Linked DNA regions of Homo sapiens: region 1 is linked to region 2. Evidence: fine-mapped expression QTL. A gene starts in region 2. The other region holds a variant in brackets. All regions are shown on one strand. Distances are between the middles of the regions. Region 1 overlaps CTTNBP2NL (CTTNBP2 N-terminal like). Region 2 holds the start of WNT2B (Wnt family member 2B).

Region 1 (3,016 bases), 51 kb before region 2:
TCTTCCAGTGGGAGCTCACTGTCTCCCAGCAGCACTGCCTCCTCCTCTCTAACATCCTCTCCTTGCTCTTCGCCGGTACTCACTAAGCGTTTATTGGGGTCATCAGCTAGCAGCCCTGGCTACCAGTCATCGTACCAAGTAGGGATCAACCAACGGTTCCATGCAGCTCGCCACAAATTTCAGTCCCAAGCAGATCAGGACCAACAAGCCAGTGGCCTACAGAGCCCTCCATCCAGGGATTTATCCCCCACCCTCATAGACAACTCTGCCGCCAAGCAGCTGGCCCGAAACACAGTCACTCAGGTGCTCTCCAGATTCACTAGCCAACAAGGGCCAATCAAGCCAGTCTCTCCCAACAGCTCTCCCTTTGGCACAGACTATCGAAATCTAGCCAACACTGCCAATCCAAGAGGTGACACAAGCCATTCACCTACTCCAGGGAAAGTGTCCAGTCCCCTGAGCCCCCTGTCTCCAGGAATCAAGTCCCCAACCATCCCCAGAGCTGAGAGAGGAAACCCTCCACCCATCCCACCCAAGAAACCTGGCCTCACCCCTTCTCCATCTGCTACCACTCCATTGACCAAAACTCATTCCCAGGCAGCCTCTTTGACCACTGCAGAAGACCTTGCCAGCAGCTGCTCTTCCAATACTGTTGTAGCAAATGGTAAGGATGTTGAGTTACTTTTGCCTACCAGCAGCTAGTCCCTAGGAGGGAGTCTCCACGTTTGACATTCCATCAGATTTCGTCCAAAAGCTCAGTCAGACTTCTGAGTCAGATTATGTTATTTATTTTGATAGTAGCTGAAACCATCTGTATAATACATTTAGTATATTTCACCATTTTGTATTTTTTTAAGTAGAAACTGAGTAGTTTGGATTTTTATGGCTCACATCTTTTTACTGAAGCCAGAAAGGCACCTCAAAGATGTCTCAAGCTCAGCAGTCACCGTCATGTTGTGATGAAGAAAGCGAATCACCAGGTGGTGATTTGCTATCTATTTGAGAACTAGAATCACTCAACACTCATTTTGAATTATGCAGAAGTGGTTCATGCAGATTTTTATTCCAGATGAACATGTTTTAAAAGTGCCTGAAATATGACTGCCATATGAATGTGATTCTGCAGCAAAAAACACAAAATAGATCATTTAATTACAGAAAATGAGATCCTCTGTGAATTCTGAATGTTAAAAACCAACACTGCTTTTAATCCTCTTTTAATGTTTTAATACAAGCTTTGTGTTCTGAAACAAGGCTGCATAAGTAGAATGGGAATCCTTCTAAAGGTGGGTGTGAACTCACCACAAGCTGAGCTTTATAGAGCCCTTGAGAAACCCTCCTGAGCACTAAGCAGTTGGGGTGCTGATTTTCTTGTACTTTTGAAAAATTAAGTCACTCCCAGTTTCCTGCATAAGTTCTTGAACAGAATGAAATCACATCTCCATTCAAAAAATGTCTCAAGCATCTACTGTTGTGTAAGGAACTTCTGATTCTGATTGCTGTTACTTGAATAGGAAATGGTTACTCATTCTGTATAAAAGTTTTGCAAGAGAATGAATTTTTTATTCTGTAATCAAAAAGCAATAACTTGAAATTCACTCTGTAATATTATA[GGTCA/G]GTCAGAATTATACAAGTTTTACCAAATTGTTACACTTATTCTCCAAGCTGCCAGAACCTGGTATCTGTATCTGTAAAACCAAATTAACTTTTGCTTAAATGGGAAGTATACATATATCTGTATAGATACATTACCCCTTTACATGTTTAACATACACACACTTAAACACATAAATACTAGTGTGATTATATCTTTGGAGTTTGCAATATAGCATAAAGGACAAGTAGAACTGCACATTAAGATTACCTACCGAAGCAACTAGATGTGGCTGGGACACAATCAAAGGAGGAATTTTGTCCACAGGAAGGTGAGGAAATTCCAAATGAAGCCTAGATCTTCAGTATCATAAAAAGGCAGAGCTGGCCAGGCACAGTGGCTCATGCCTGTAATCTTATCACTTTGGGAGGCTGAGATGGGAGGATCTCTTGAGACCAGGTGTTCAAGACCAGCCTCATCAACATAGTGAGACCCCATCTCTATTAAAAAAATAAATAGGCAGAGCTAAACTAACCCCAGTGTCACAAAACTCAACTGGTCATATAAATGAGTGAAACAGGCCTCTCACACAAGCGATGTAAAACAGCTGGGAGCAGTGGGAGCTGTGGCAAACTAAAGTGCCCAAGCCGCATTTAAAAAGGGCATCTGTTCAGCTCCATCTGCTTGCTGCGGTGCAAGAATGCTAAACCAGGATTACCAGTTCTTCACATTTTTTGAAATCCAAATTTTCATGAGAAACATTCTCATTTTTAAATATCAAGAAGTGATTTTAAAATGTTTAAATGGTGCTGGTTAAACAAACACGTCTGCAGCTGGATTTAGCTTGCAAGCTGCCAAGTTGCAACCTCTTTCATTCTAGAAACTTCTGTCATTTTCATCATAGCAAGTCTATGCGGACAAAAGCCTCCAAACTTTCCAACTGTGTAGGCCAGTACAGCTGGCAAGGTTCATAGAATATAATGGCTATCCCCCTCTGCCAAATAAGACTATCCACAACCCAGCTCAGACACAGTGGTTATATGATTTTGTGTCCATACAGGAGAGGCCTTGGTGTCTTCACATACATTCTCTGAGCCAACATCTATCCAGCAGCCCTGACCTCCTGCTATAATTTAAGTCTATTTCCTTTTAATCTAATAAGAGTTGATAGTAAAAAGGCAGGTGATGGAAATCAGTGTATAAATCACAATGGAGTATATTGGCAACTCCACAGCTTATAGTTTGATAAAGGCAAATACATGAAAAATAAAAATGCTACTAATGCCCCAAGGTGTCTATCAAAATGATGTAGGGGGTATCTTAAACTGTCCAAGGCAATCATGCATTGAACTTTATTCCTATGCAGAGCCAAAACGAATAGTGTTGATAAAATAGCTAAACTTTCTAAACTGGAGAGGAGGC
Region 2 (2,500 bases):
AAGCCCAGGATTTTAAAAAGAATTTTACTTCTGACGGAGGGCCACAGTGCCCGCAGGGCCCGTACCTGCTATCCTGGGAGGTTTGAGGGTTGGGGTGGTGGGGAGAGGAGAGTCTCTTTCGGCAGACTGCACCTCCCCACCCCTTCCCTATTTACCACGCCCCCAGGCGCTGTGCGGGCGGAGGGAGGGTGAAGGAGCAGTGGGGAGGAGGCAGGGCGAGAAGACGAAGGAGGGAAAAAGCTCCAGGGCTTCCACTCTCTCGGCAGGACCCCCACCCTGGCCTCTGGTGCGGGAAAACCTCCCAGCTGTTTCTGATTCTTTCATACTCTCAGCCCCGCCCGAGAGGGTGGAGGACCGAGGCACAGAGGGGGAGCGGGGAGAGACTGAGCTCCGCTGAGCCCAGGAGTAAGGGGCGGGGAGTCCGCAGGTGCCCCCTTAGCGTCGGCAGTCGATTCCCGGTCCGTAAAGAAAAGCACCCGGGCCGGGCAGGCCGGGCAAGCAGGAGCCAGGTCTAAACGTGATGCATTGGGGGTGGGGGGTGCAGTGGCTCAGAAGAAGCAGGGGCGATGAGCTCTAGCTGAAAGCATCCCCTGCTAGAAGCCGACTGCCCACGGCGCTCCTGTAGGCAGTGTTGAAAAGGTAGTTAAGACCTCCAACTCCCGGTGGCAGGGACTCTACCCATTTCACAGAAGCGCAAGGATGGAGGAAATGAGTGCATCCTCCGTGCTCAGCGCCGGTGTCACTGTAGGTTGGGGACAGGAGGGAAGTGCCCGCATCCCCTTCCCGCTCCGCCAGCCTGGCCGTCACCCATAGAAGTGGGGCTGCTGAGTGAAGGGCGCTAGGACCCGGTGGCGCGGTGTCGGCAGGGACTGGGCGCTTGGGGCGCAGGAGGGAGCCGCGGCGTCCCGTCGCAGCGTGCGGGAGCAGGTGGGGGTGCAGCGCGGTGGCGCGCGGGAGCCCCGAGGGGCGGAGGCGGCTGCTACACCTAGGGCGTCGCGGAGCGCCCCGGGCTTGGCGCGGGCGGAGCCGCCCTAAGGGCCGCGCGTGTCCCCGGCCTCGGCCCCGCCCCGTCCCGTCCAATGAGAGCCCGCGGCCGAAGGGGCTGTCCGCACACTAGGCCCGCAGCTCCCTTCAGCGCCGCAGACCCCCTGACACCGCACCCGGTCCTCAGGCAGCGCGCCCCAGACCCCGGGTTCGGCACGCCGTCGTCGGCTTCCGGACATCGCAACTTGCGCCCCTCTCGGGGATCCTCCTCCCGGGCTCTGGACCCCAGGTGATCCTAGGTCCCCAGCCGCCGGCGAACACCATGGCCCCCCAGGGGGGTGAGGTAGGAGCAGCCTGAGTACCCCCAGAAGGTGCCCCGTCCACGCCCCTCCGGGCTGCGCGGCGGGAGTCTTCGGGGAGCTATGCTGAGACCGGGTGGTGCGGAGGAAGCTGCGCAGCTCCCGCTTCGGCGCGCCAGCGCCCCGGTCCCTGTGCCGTCGCCCGCGGCCCCCGACGGCTCCCGGGCTTCGGCCCGCCTAGGTCTTGCCTGCCTTCTGCTCCTGCTGCTGCTGACGCTGCCGGCCCGCGTAGACACGTCCTGGTGGTAAGTGTGGCTCTCAGGCTGGGCGGGTGAGGCGCTTGGTAGGAGAGGCCGGAGGCGCCTGGAGGGACTGGCTGCTCACGGGACCAGGCTGTTGCTTCGACGGGTTGGAGACGATTCGGGCAGGACTGTCACTGAAATCTGAAGTCGCGGGGTGGCGGGAGGGTGAGGCGCCGCGTCTTACACGACTGGTGAGAAAGGCGCTGGGCATTCGGAGCAAGGATGCCCGGTGGTCGCGGCTCCTTAGGCCTCCACGTGCTGTACCCCCTCTATTTCAGCTCAAGCCCCTTAGGGCAGAAGCTACCTTCCGAGTTTCCCTCAGGGTGAGTTCAAGGAACGAATAACCTTCCAGGGCCCGCAATAGCTTCGCCAGGGCCCCAATCGCCTAAGGTCGCCCTCTGAGAGGTGGAGAAAGGGGCAGCTCGCTAGTCTAGCCCACCCATACCACAGGAAGGCTTTGGTGAGGCAGCAGCACCCAGCCGAGGCTTAGAAATGGAATCGAGGCAAAATTTACCCCATTAACTCCCACAATTAAAACAAACAAAACGCATGGGTTTGCATTATCTAGGCATTTGTCTTCAGCCACCGTTTTGAGGATGTCACTTAGGAAACTTTGCCTCCCTCCCTTCTTCCTATTCTTTCCCATCTCCCATTTCTCCCCTCCAAGAGCCAGAGGGCTGCGGAGTCCCAAGATACTAAGAGACCCCCTCCCCAGATTTCTTGCAGGCCCTAGACTCCAGACACTTCACAAGAGGGCAGATGAGGCAAAAAGGCATTACAGATCCACTGGATGTCTCGTGTCTGTTCTTTTTAGAATCCTCCCTGCCCCCTACTCCTTGGATGGCACTCATCACCTTCCCGTAGGAGAAGGAGCTGCTTTCCCTTCTTCCCCACCATGGGGAGAGGGCAAAGCAG

What was found. PIP is the estimated chance that this variant, and not a neighbour inherited with it, causes the effect.
Region 1: its variant is fine-mapped to the expression of WNT2B in fetal neocortex (Walker 2019, PIP 0.95).

Annotation. Positions count from the first base shown.
Region 1 is chr1:112,456,711-112,459,726 of GRCh38, forward strand. CTTNBP2NL (CTTNBP2 N-terminal like) reads left to right here. Exons shown (of 6, transcript NM_018704.3): 6 at 1-3,016. The coding sequence ends at 702. Among named protein-coding and RNA genes, the nearest start is that of MIR4256, 3.6 kb to the right of the region's middle. The variant GGTCA/G (reference allele first, on the strand shown) is at 1,614.
Region 2 is chr1:112,507,857-112,510,356 of GRCh38, forward strand. It overlaps WNT2B (Wnt family member 2B), which reads left to right and starts at 1,109. Exons shown (of 5, transcript NM_024494.3): 1 at 1,109-1,588. The coding sequence starts at 1,407. RefSeq lists enhancers at 377-920, 1,845-2,344 and silencers at 898-1,027, 1,038-1,147, 1,208-1,287, 1,348-1,457, 1,451-1,745.